3 separate regions of the Homo sapiens genome follow, and all the other regions are linked to region 1. Evidence: fine-mapped expression QTL. A gene starts in region 1. Each other region holds a variant in brackets. All regions are shown on one strand. Distances are from middle to middle. Region 1 holds the start of ERMARD (ER membrane associated RNA degradation). Region 2 has its middle 53 kb from the start of LINC02519. Region 3 has its middle 13 kb from the start of LINC00242.

Region 1 (4,243 bases):
TCCTTATTAAAAAGTTAAGGGAAGTAGCTGACAATCTCACCAAAGCTCTATACAATTGCAGATGAGTTAATTCTCTAAAAGTTAACTGAGGTGCTACCACTAGAAAAAAAGAAATGGAGGCAAGACAGATAAAATCAAGAGATGGTCATATTGATGAAACAGTATGTCTTAAATTTTCCTATGCTCCAAAATAGGGAAATTAACAGCTACCTTAAATTAGAAATAACTAAGTGAACAGTTTCCTCAGGTACATTTAGTGAGCATTTGTAGAGTCCTTTCTCAATTTCTTCCCAATTATTGTTCTATTCAAATTTCTCACCTCTAAAAGAATCAACTTTAAAGATAGCTATAATTGATCACATCCATATCAAATACTAATAATTACTTTGGTCCATGTCCCCTCACTCCCAGATTTTAACCTATATACCAGGTGCACCTATGTGTCTCCTCATTTTGAGTTCAGGCTCATTGAATTTTAAAGACCACTTCAGACCTCAGATAGGCAGTAAGTTTATAAAAGCCACCCTTGTCTGCCTCAATATATAGAAATTTTTCTTTACTGTTGGTGACCTGTTACTCAGACTCATTGCCAAGAAATACAGCATAGTGTTTGGGAGTGTGAAGTTTTAAGTCCAACTGATTTAGGTTTCTAGCCCTGCTCTGCTCTTTTTCTTAGCTGTGTAAACTTGGCCTGTTTGCTTTTCCTCCTTTATTTAGTTCGTTCTTTCCTCTGTAAAATGTAGACACCAGGGAAACAAGAACCTGAAATTTCGCCATTATTTTGAGAATTCTCTTTTTAAGAGTAATCTTAAAATGTTTTAGGGTCTTCAAAAAATTGTTTTGCCTGTCATCTCTATCTTCATCCTATTATAGGTCCACGAAGTAAGTACGAAGAGAAACCAGTATAGGCCAATTGGACCGAGTACTAGCATACAGGTTCTGGTCCCAGCTCTATCATTACAGCTTTGTATCCTTGGGCAAACTAATTTTCTGTTAAAGTATCAATAAAATATAGAGTCTTTAATACATTAACGGTTTTCAAAGCCTAATCATATAGAAATACCTGTTATACCACCAATAAAACTGAATAATGACCCTTTCCATCAATATCAGTAAGTTTTGGACAGGGTATTTTCAACTTAAGTTTTTTTCTCCTGTACATTCTTCAAATATCCAGACTGCTGATGTTTTAAAAACCCAAAACATGGCACTATTCTGCCTGGTTTATCAAATTATTTTTTTAATACAACACACTCATTTTTCGCTAGCAAAACTGCTTATAATGGCACTAAATACACTAACATACTGTGTTTTAGTACAAAGCAATAATACTCAGAGTACTCTCAGGAAATCCGCAAGCTGAGTAAATTTGAAAAGAAGATCTTGTAACCACCCTTCCAATCGACTTATGTAGGGTTCTATGGCCCTAATTAAAAAACAAGAAAACTTTAGCACTCAAGTCCAAAGGGGACTGCCCAACTCAGTCTCAGGCTTCAATTTCGCATCTGGGGAAAAAAGAAACACAAAAGGGAGATGCTGCCTCCTTGGCTCTGGGGGTGGTGACGGGAGCGGGGCCCACTGGGGAGCGATTTCACTTAAACGGTCGGACATAGCCGTCTCGGGCCCCTAGCAGTCTCCGCACTCACTGCCTCCTTCTCGAACATGCTAGGCCTCCTTTCTTTCCTAGGCGTCACCGGAGCCTGCTGAGGGGTCTGGTTCGGGGTCTGGATGGGGCTCGACTTCACGCCTCGGCCTCGCTTCTCCATCTCGCTCTGTTCTCCAAGACGCCCACCGCCTCCCCTTCACCGCCGGCGGTCAAACGCCCTAGCCAGTCCCGCGAGGGCGGAAGTCTCCCACCTGCGCCTCGTACGGTAGGAAGTGCCCGCCAGGGCTCCAAAGCGCCTGGAGGAGGGGCGCGCAGGCGCCTGCGTCATTCACGCGCGCCGCAGCGGGGCACCGGAAGTTATGGAGGTAGGGCGGGTGTAGGGCCCGGTTCGATCCCGAGCTAGGCAGGGAGTCGGCGCCAGGCTGGGTGGTGCTCGGCTACGCGGAGTGGGCGAGCGAGCACGCGCCTGCGGTGGCCGGCGGTCCCGCGCTGGAGGGCGCTGGCGACGTCGCGGCCCTGGCCTCTGTGGCGGTATCGGACGCTCGGCCCTGCAAGACGCCTGGCGGGCCCTGCCGGCCTCCCTGGGCCAGGCTCGGTTTCTCCGTCGCCTCCTGGCCCTGAGCTGGAACGCGGCGGACGGTCAGGGAGGGCTGTGCGCGGTGGCGCGGGGGCGGAAAGCCGCAGGTCGGGCTCTCACCTGACCGTGGCTCGTTCCTAGAAGCGCAGTTTCCTAGTCGCTGCCTGTAGGGTCCACACTCGGACAGTAAATTTGTGTTCATCGCCGGGCGTGGTGGGGCCTGTGGTCCCATCTACTCCGTAGGCTGAGGTGGAAGGATCGCTTTAGCCCAGGAGGTGGAGGCTGCAGTGAGCCGAGATCGCGCCACTGCACCCCTGTCTGGGCGACGGCGAGACCCCGTCTCCAAAATGATGATAACGATAACTACCATTTTTGAGTACTATGTGCTAGATGCTTTTCATGTGTTATCTGATTACTGTAGCCCTACCAGGTGCAGCCTGGCACCGTTTTATTTCACTTAGAACTGAGATTCCGATAAAGTAACTTTTCCAAGGCAAGAGGTAGTCAGAGGCTGAGGAATGATTCAAATTTAAGTCCAGCTCCAAAGCACCGGCCCAGTGTAGTCTGCAGAGTTCCAGCCCCATAGAGCCACATGGAGGATGCGAGTGACAATCGCCAATCAACAAATAGTTGATGTAGATTTCTTTAGTGATGACTTAATTGTTAGGGCCTGCTGGGATTGTTCGAAAACCAGGGCTGAGAGTGGAAAGTGCAACTTCTGGGTGCAGGAGGAGCAAACAGGGCAACTGATAGCAGTTTCCACATTAGGAAGCTGCCCAGAGCTAATTATGACTGTCACAACACAGCCCCCCCTTAACTCAACACACCAAAATAAAGAGCTTCGGTTCCGCTTTAGATCCTGAATTTGACTTCTTTGCAGGTTTATACGATGGTCTTAGTGTCATGTGGGGTAATTGTGAGGATTTCGATTGTATTTAATTCTCCATGGAAAACCAGTACGGTTTGCTACTTTTTACATGGCAGGGAAGGCTAAACTTTACCTCTGCCCATCTTAGTTCGGAGTGACCCCTTTAACAAATGAAAGGATAACAAGAAAAAAGTTTATTCTTGGACAGAGTACACATCACAAGGGATAAACCTTAATGAGAAGTAACTTGAAATGGTGGCTTAGAACTACATTTGTATACCATCTTCAACAAAGAACTGTAGATTTGCAGAGAAGTGACAGGACACAGGAGAGCAGTTTTAGGCTTCAAAGGGCAGGAAATTGGGAAGGTAGATACATATTCGGAAACTAATGGAGTAAGAATTGTTTGCAGATTCCCCTGGTACCTTAACTGGTCTGGTAAGTCTAAAGTTATCCCCAGTAAAGAATTTATATCCTGTCTTTGGGCGGAAGAGGGGGAGGATAGAGAGAGCTTTTCCTTCATTTGCTGCCTCTTGTCTTCAGCTCAAATTTGTTGTTGTTTTTATATCGAAGAGGCATGTTTTGGGATGACATTGTGGTTTTCTTCAACACCGTTTAGGTAGTCAGAGGTACGTGGGGTTCTTTTTCCTTCTTGTTCGTTATACTTGGTTTCTGCTCTCCCATTCCCCATTTAAAAAAATTGCTTATTTTGATAACTCTGGGATAGTGAAGGAATGCTGAGAGCAATAATGCTCTGGTCGTAAAACACATTCAGCTTCCGTGAACTTGTATTTTTTCTTTTTTTTTTTTAAGTGAAAGGCAAGTTTATTAAGAAAGTAAAGGAATAAACAATGGCTACCCCATAGACAGAGCAGTTTGCAAATATTATGATTGATAATTTTAGGTCTTTAAGCCTTTATCATATTTGAGAACATTTATGTAAATTATCTTTAATATTTAATCACTATGTTTTAATCATACAGCTCTCACGATATCCAGAAAGCATGTTAACAGCAACTATACCTGAGTGCATTCAGTTCTTAAGAGATGTGTCTGAAATATATAATACTCTATTTTTCTTTCTGTTAAGCAGTGCCTTTTATTTTATTTTATTTTTTAGGTATTAATAGGGGACCCTATTACCACATGTCTTTCTCCCTCAGTGTATGATATAATTTGTAATCTTGGGTTT
Region 2 (4,243 bases), 310 kb before region 1:
AAACTAGGTCATCTCTAGTACAGGTCTAAGTTTTTTCCCTCTGAACTATGTAACTTTTTATATTTGCTTTTGAAGTCTTTTAATAATCACTCTGATTAAATAATTATCTCACAATGACATCTGATTATATTTTAATTAAATGTTTTAAGTTTTTTTAACATCTTTAACAAACTTCCCCAAAATCAAATTCTAATTTAAGTACTTTTAAGCTTAAATTGACTTTGGGATTTTTCAGTTGGGCCCCAAAAAAACATCAAACGATGCATCTCCCATGATGCTTATTCGATGGGTTGTATAAAGGCACTGTCAAATAATAAAGTGACACTAGCTCTTACTAAAATTATATTTAGATGGATGCATTATTGATGTGAATGCTTTAACATTTATAAAATTTATAAAGGTCTGATGGTTCTTACTGTGATGCTATCAGTAATGATTTTGGTTGTTATCTTAAAATGCCATACACAATAGAAATAACTAAATTTCTTAATCAATTGCTGAACTTTTATCACATTATAACTGTGACTGTTCTAATTTTTTGGTCATCTACAGTGCTGATTCTTATCTAGTGGCATCTGCAACAAGATTCATAAAAAAGATTCTAGCAAGTACTCCTCAGTACAGATGTCTAGTAACTTTAAGATCAATGGACTAAATAAAAATTTCTAAAATGCTAACAGGTTCATAAAACTGCTAACCAAGATAATGAAGAACAAAATTTAATTGCCTGAGATTGAATAACTGATAAAAATTATGATTTTTATGACTTTTATTTGAAACATTATTGGTTATTCATTTAAATATTTTGTTTTCCATATTTAAGAAAACTTTCTTTCTTGAGCTGCCTATAGCTTACAGCAATTTGGTAAAGTGCACTTTAATAAACAAAGGTGAAAACATTTACTTTTCTACTTGATCCCTTCAAAACTTGAAAACTATTCATGAGTTTTTTATGTTATGACAGTATGGTTTTTAATAGGATGCAATTATAATCGTTAATTATATTACCAATATTATATTGGTAGTTATATTACCAATATTATTATATTGGTAGTTATATTACCAATATTATTATATTGGTAATATAATTATTTAATATATCACATTTAAAATTAATATATCATATTTTACATTGTTTATACTCATACATACTGAAGATAAAATCTGAAGCCTGCCTTGATTTGGCTTCCTAGCTTCAAAATATTTTTAACAAAGGTCCAATCTGAGATTCAATCATTATGCTTGCTATACTAATATAAACAATCAGGCCAAATCTAATAAATCTGAATTTATGTTACAAACAAATTAGTGTTACTCTAATGATCTTTTGTAAAAATTGGGCTGTCTATAGTATATTGTTTTTAGACTGTAACCCTATGCATTGTTTTTGAGTTTTTATTATCTACCTGTAGGCTGGACAGGATACTAAACTCTCCTAAGTTCCTGTAATTCAATTTTTCTCTCACAGAATTACTAAGAAGAGAAATAGTTATTTCCTAACGCCCTATAAACAAATTACAGTTTAAATTTAGTTTTTAGTTTTAGTTTAAATAAATTTCAGGGGACAAGCCTCACGCCTAGTGTGTGGGCTACACAGAGTTCACCAAACCACCCAGTGACATAATGGGAGACATTCAAACTGTGAAACTGCCAACTTCATGCTGTAGGCAACTTTTCCCAAGAGCACTAAACCAAGACTCCATGTTCTAATAAGACCGTTGCCCCTCTTAATGCCTATCTTTTTCACTTAAATAATAGATTACTTAAGTGAAAATCTATTTATTATTGTAATAATAATTACAATGAGCTCATAATTAAAAGTTTAGAATCATACCCGATATGAATAACATAACAAAACCTGACTTAAGCAATTCTTAAGTCCACCTGTTGGGTAATTTTGGCAATACCCCCAAGACAACTTTTTGTTCTAATTGTACTAATGGTCCTTTCTACAGAGCTGGCACTCTGCTTTAATTCATCTTAATCATGAAATGCTAGTCCATGGCTACAACAAGTCTTCCCACTTCCTCTATGGCTTTTTCATCTGCTGAGTTGGTTGCCCTTAGGCATGAGCTCTTGGTTAAAAACCTTTGTACAAATTAAATTTATTATATTGTTGCTGG[GT/G]TTTTTTTTCTTGTATTTTGCTCTTGATATTTAAGCTCTGTTCTTGTGTTTTGTCTAATCTTTGTAAAAATCAGTTATCTCAACAGGATGATGTTAGCCAAATACTTTGAGATTATTGACAATGCCTAAGAGACTAATAAGGTAGAACTTGATGCTAAACTCCAGGCAAACCTGCCCTAAGAAAGGTTTTGGTTGTTTCATTCTGTTTTTCTTTCTGGCACCTTTGTTACTCAAATGCGGTCTGGGTCCCTGATGTTGACTACCTTACTTCCCCCGATGGGGGACCAGAGACCACCAAGACAGGTCCACTAAGCACCAAAAGACAATTAAACCTAATTTCAAGACAGTTGATCAGTAACATTTTCAGAAAAAGATCTTGATCAAAAGGGGGAAATGTGAGAATTAATGATGTGAACTGAAGTTAACTTGTCCACCTAAGTAGATTAGAGTCAGACCAGCGGCAGGTGGGAAGCACCGAGGCACAGGTCACTTGCCCAGGGACAATCTCACCAGCCAGCTGCCAAGTCACTTGCCCAGGGACACTATCAACCAGCTGCCATGTCAGTTACCCAGCGACAATCTCACCAGCCAGCTGCCAGGTCACTTGCTGCAACCTTAAGGCCATTTTTACGCAGGAGATGCTGAAACAAACTCCTGTGACTCCAAGACTAGTGTTACCCACTCTTGTCACTCACCAATCCGAGCTTGCCAGCTCCCTAAAACCTTGCTAGTGCCAATGAATTTTCTTTCACAACAATGCATAACATTTTTCTTTCTAAGAAGACCCTTAATCTTCTTTCTTCTTTGGACATACTGAAGACCACCTAGTCTGTGTGTATGCTTCAAGCTGAAGTCTGTTCTCTAAAATAAAACACTTTATTTAGAGATTCATGTATATATTTTTATTTGACTTTGACAATACTCATATGCCACCTCAGAAGCAAAATGTTTTTAAAAAAGAGGACGGCTTTGGGAAAACCATCACATAGGTTCTATTTTTATGTTTATCTATATACATAACTGGGATATTCAGCCAAAAAAATAAAATATTTCCCCTGACTTGTGATGGCCATTGGCAATTATAAGAAAAGTCATCCCAGAATTGAAAAGTTCAGCCATGCCCTGCCCCATGGGCCAGGTTCGTCTGCTATAAACACTCAGACAGCAAGAATTAAATGGATCCTCATCTCTGTTTTCTCAGTGTTGTGTTTGGAACTGAAAGTCTTTTCCTCCCTTCTTAATGGTGTTAATCACATCTTTATCAATAGAATTCAAAAGGCTCCCTTTATTGCCCTCACAATATGCTCTCCTGAGGCAAATAATTTAGACTCAAGTAACTGCCAAGATTACTGGAAACAATAAACCATATTTACACATGCCTGTTAATGTTTTATGTCTGAAAGAATTCTTATAAAATAGACACCCAGCATCTAGAATCAGGAGAGATATGGAACCTCCCTTTTCATGTTTGTTTTGTATTTTCTTTTACAGGTGAAAGGTAAAAGGTAAAACTTTATATTTTTATCTCCTTATTTCCTTAAGATCTTCTAATTTTAGGAAAATATTGTATCATGTTTTCACCCTCCACAAACAATCATTCTTTTTTCCAGAAATATCTTGACTCCCCTTCAAGAATTTGTCTTCTCATGAGGTAGTAGTGGTGGCTCTGGCTGTGTCCCCTGTGGTCTCCTGCCTTTCCCTGGCCCAGGAGTGGGCACATAACCGAGTGGGACCACAGCTTGGAGTCTGGAGTGAGAATAGGTGGGAAGCTCAGTGGAGAGCATATCTGGCCACCTGGCCTTGGAGTTGTCCTGTCCTGACGGATGCAGGACGACTGAGCCTGTACCTGAGCCCACACCTCCTCCTGCTGCCTGGGGATTCTGCAGGCCACCACCACCCCCACACATTCCCAATGCTATTAAGCATGCCACAGTTATTTTCTGTGGCTTGCAACCAAAAAACTCTAATAACTGATACAATTCTGCAAAGCCAACAGTCACAGACTACCAATGGCAATGAGAGGAGACCACATTCCAAAAGACAATGTGATGAGCATTTAAAGAAAGAATTACCTATGTCTGAGTGAAGACCTATGACACAAAACATGCAAGGAAAGTGG
Region 3 (4,243 bases), 60 kb after region 1:
GACACCCCAACATTGACGTCCGCAGCACTGACACCCCTGGCACTGAGACCCCAGCAGTGACAGCCCCTGCTGTCAATACATAACAGTAATTTGTTATTTATTTATTCTTGGTTAGAACTCACAGAATAGTACAGAGAACAACATAGAACCTCTAGGTACTCACCACCTAAATCCCAAACACAGTATTTTTCCACACTTCTTTATTTTCTGAAATACACAAGGCTGTTCACCCTGGCCTGGGGAGGGTTGTGGAGCCTGTGTTGTTGGAGCAAAGGTTGTTAACTATTCTGAGTGTTATCTCTTTTTTCTATCTATCACATATACATTGAAACGCTTCCATCCTTTTCCTCAAGCCAATGCCCCCACTCTCCGAGGAGACTCTGCTCTGAGTTCGGTGTGTGGAGTTGGGTGACGTTTGGAAAGACAGCATGCTACACATAATGTAAATGTAACTACTTATGTTTCCAGAAATAAACTTCAGTATTTTATGCCCTAGTTGAATCTTGAAATAATACAATTGAAGTTCAAGCTTGAAATGCTCTAAAAAGTTTGAAAAGCTAAGTTCAACTGTACAATTTGAAGACTTCTCCAGTGCTGAGGCTTAGCTGTTCACCCTGACCTGGGGAGGGTTGTGGAGCCTGTGTTGTTGGAGCAAACGTTGTTAACTATTCTGAGTGTTATCTCTTTTTTCTATCTCTGCTGGCCTGTGTTACTCTCCGGCTCTGCCTAGGGAAGCTGAGCTTAGGATGGGTTAAGGGAACAACTGGACGGAAAGCCCAGGTAGGAAGCAGCAGGAAGTTACTGAGCCCATGATGCAGGGCTCAGGGGAGTGGCCTCGGTGGGCAGGGCTTGGGGGAGCAGCCTCGTTGACACAGGGCTCAGGGGAGTGGCCTCGGTGGGCAGGCTGCACACCTGTACTTCTGGGGGCTGTTAGAGGCCGCTGGGCAGTTGCTGCAGCTGAACCAGACATGAGAGAGGCTTTCACTGGTCAAAGGCTTGGGAGGACACCGGGGTTTCCCCAGGCCTTGCACGTGCAGATCAGCTGGCGTGAGCCCTGTGGATAATGAGACTCTCTGATGCTGATCTTCCCGCGGGTGGAGCACCAGACACAGATTCTAGGCGTGGTTTCCCCCAGTTTGTGTTCAGCCAAGGAGAGGCCCTGGCCTCTGGGATCCCGGGAAAGCATATCCTGCAGGGAATTAATCCCAGGGTCTCAGGTCGCGTTATGATTCACTCGCTGGATAGTTAAACGACCCAGATTCAAAAGGGGCAGCTCAAACCTTTGCCCCCTGGGAACAAAAGCAGGAGATTAGCTCTGTGTTATCAATCAGCATTGTCAGGACAGAATGAAAAAGGCTAACTTTAAAGGCTTCACCTGTTGAGGCCTTAGTCAGAGCCTGGATGGGAATCAAAGGTCATTCCTGCCCAAGGTTTTGTCTCAAGTCCTCAAATGGGTAGCACTGAATTACCTTTAAAAATGGCCTCAAAGGACCGGAGATGAAGCATGGATTAGTGTCTTAATCTTAATAGCACGAGGCCTGTAGTTAGGGTCCAGGGAACTTGGGGGAAGAGGTGGCATTGTCCTGGGCCGTCCCTGGCATGCGGTGCTATTAGAGGTGGGCTGGGGTGAGGGTGGGCTTTGTGCCTCTGGACAGGACCCTTTCACCGGCTTTGGGGGCGTTCTCACAGAGCTTTGCCAGCTGACTTAGCGTTGGCCCTCTGACAATGGGATTTGTCAAGACCAGATGAATGAAATCTTAGGCTCAGACGGGGAAAGGCAGGTATCCTGCTCTGGTATTTATGTGAGGAGCAATGTTGGGCCAGCCTGAGCTGTGGGGCTGGAGAAGACCCCAAATGCCAAAATATGATCTGGTTTCTCTGCCACCCCTCATCCCCCTTTAGTGCCACCGGGGACAACCAAATCTGATCAGAGGCCGCCTGTTTCTGCCTGTGGGTCCTCTACCCAGCTGCAAGAGTGGTTTCTATACTGATGTGGACCCCAGCCTGCCTGCTGTGAAGCTGCCTTCAGCACAGAAGGGGAGGTTGGGGCTGGCCTCTGAGGAGTGACCTGGCCGAGCCCACTGTCCACCAAGGCCTCAATGCCTTCCCTGCCACGTAGGGTCCCCGTTTCTGCCTGG[C/T]GGCATGAGGCTGTGCCGGGCCTGTCATCGCAGATCGTGGGCAAGAGCTGCCTCAGGGTGGAAGAGACTGCACAGAGCTGTCCCTGAGTGGCCTCTGGCTAGGACAGGACCTGCAAGGGGAACAGCCTCACTTCCTTCTCCCTGACCATTCCGTCCATACTCAAAGCCGACTCCCTTCCTCCCTCTCCAACCCACTATGTGCTGTGGATGGGCTGTGGCTTCACTGGGCACCCCCATCTGCTGCCTCTATTGTTCCCCATCCCCAGCCAAGTGGGTCTTGTTTTCCTTCACTGCAGGCAGAACTCGAGCCTGTGCTGTGCCCTGATGAGTGGCTCCCCTTCTTCCTGGGCCGTTCCATGGGTGTGCCTTTGCCACGCTCAACCTTCCCACCCCGACGCAACATTGATCCCCAAGTCAGGGTGGGCTCGGGACCCCTCAACTTTCCCCTGTGCCCCTGTGCATTTCATGGGCAAATCAAACCTTTTCAAACTCTCGCCTCCACAGGTCCCCAGGGGTGGACACTCCAAGGTCCCCGTTGCTCCTGTCCTCTGCCAGCCGCCTCACCGCCTAAATCAGTGGCCCAGCCCAGGCCATTACCACAAGGCTAGCTGGCCTCGATGTCAGCACCTACCTTTCTGAGGGCGACTTTCTGAGGCTCCAGGCCCCAGCAGGTGGGATTTCTCTTTCCATCCGCACCCCGACGGCATCGTGCTGGCTGTTCAGTGTGGCGGCCGCAGCTGGTGTCCAGCTACAGCCCACGGAGCCAGGGACAAACCTGGGTTTAGTCAGGATGCCGGTGGGGTTGCCTCGCCTCTGTGCGTGGAGAAGTTACTGCCAGTGTCCCGATGCGGGAATCCTTCCAGGAATGCTCTCACCTGTAAAAATGTAGAAGTTCAATAACAAAATATGAAACTGCAGGAAATGGGTTTGAGATACCTATACGATAAAAACAGATTTATGTAAAACTTATTAGAGGAAAAGCTGAATTAGCTTTCTCTTCTCTTAATAGAAAATGATATATCAGCAGGGTGCATTGGCTCACGCCTGTAATCCCAGCACTTTGGGAGGCTGAGGCGGGCGGATCACTTGAGGTCAGGAGTTTGAGACCAGCCTGGCCAACATGGTGAAATCCCGTCTCCACTAAAAATACAAAAATTAGCTGGGCATGGTGGCTTTTGCCTGTAATTCCAGCTACTCGGGAGGCTGAGGCAGGAGACTCACTTGAACCTGGGAGGCGGAAGTTGCAGTGAGACGAGATTGTGCCACTGCACTCCAGCCTGGGCGAGAGAGCAAGAATCCATCTGAAAAAAAAAAAGAAATGATATATCAAAATTGTCACACATAAAAGCAGTCAAAGGTGTGAGAAAGTGTAGAAAAAGAGCTGGAGAAATGAGGCAGTGTCAGGCAGGTGACTGAAAACACTGATTTTGGATTCTGTGATGTCTGTGGCTTTGCCCGATTTTTCAAGTATGTAATTTGCTTCCATCTCCCTTCTCCTTTCGAATGTGCGTGGAGGGACTCCTTTTCTTGAATAACTCCCCCCCACCAACCAATCCCATTATAAAACCACCAGGCTTCGCAAGGCCTAGTTCTGCCCCCATCTTTATCTCACTTTAGAAGACTTCCCCTGCTCTTGGCTTGAACAATGACGTCTTTTTCTGGGCTCACAAATCTATTTCTGGAATAAACTTCTCCCTGGTGATTTGTCCTTTATTTCCCACTTTCTAGGTTCTCATTCTAATAATTTAATAGGGTTATGTTGATGGTTAATGGTGACATTTGGCCACGGAGGAATACTGATATTTTAAACAGAGATTCAGCAACATTCATAGAATATTTTACCCAACAAATTTGGAAGCATCTTCACAAACATTAGCTTTGAGAAATGTTTTCTAAATTTGATTCTTAGCCAAGTGGTGGAAGGTAGAGGTAGCTTCGGGTGATCCTTAGAAAAAGGTATTTCTGGAGGCTGAGGACAGAAGGGCCTTATTCAAATGATTGTTCTGATCTAAAGCCAGATACAAAAGCCAGTGTAGGAAAGAAAGGGAACTGCCAAGAATGTGTCTGATACTTTCAGACAATCTCTATGCATTTGGGGTCTGGAG

What was found. PIP is the estimated chance that this variant, and not a neighbour inherited with it, causes the effect. A credible set is the group of variants that fine-mapping cannot tell apart.
Region 2: its variant is the best candidate, but not a certain one, in a credible set for the expression of ERMARD in whole blood (INTERVAL, PIP 0.85).
Region 3: its variant is the best candidate, but not a certain one, in a credible set for the expression of ERMARD in fibroblasts (GTEx, PIP 0.51).

What each region holds. Positions count from the first base shown.
Region 1 is chr6:169,749,693-169,753,935 of GRCh38, forward strand. ERMARD (ER membrane associated RNA degradation) reads left to right here and starts at 1,930. Exons shown (of 18, transcript NM_018341.3): 1 at 1,930-1,971; 2 at 4,172-4,243. The coding sequence starts at 1,966. It overlaps DYNLT2 (dynein light chain Tctex-type 2), which reads right to left and starts at 1,880. Exons shown (of 4, transcript NM_174910.3): 1 at 1,647-1,880. The coding sequence starts at 1,766.
Region 2 is chr6:169,438,854-169,443,096 of GRCh38, forward strand. It overlaps a transcript of WDR27 not described here. Among named protein-coding and RNA genes, the nearest start is that of LINC02519, 53 kb to the left of the region's middle. The variant GT/G (reference allele first, on the strand shown) is at 2,124.
Region 3 is chr6:169,809,615-169,813,857 of GRCh38, forward strand. No RefSeq gene overlaps it. Among named protein-coding and RNA genes, the nearest start is that of LINC00242, 13 kb to the left of the region's middle. The variant C/T (reference allele first, on the strand shown) is at 2,139.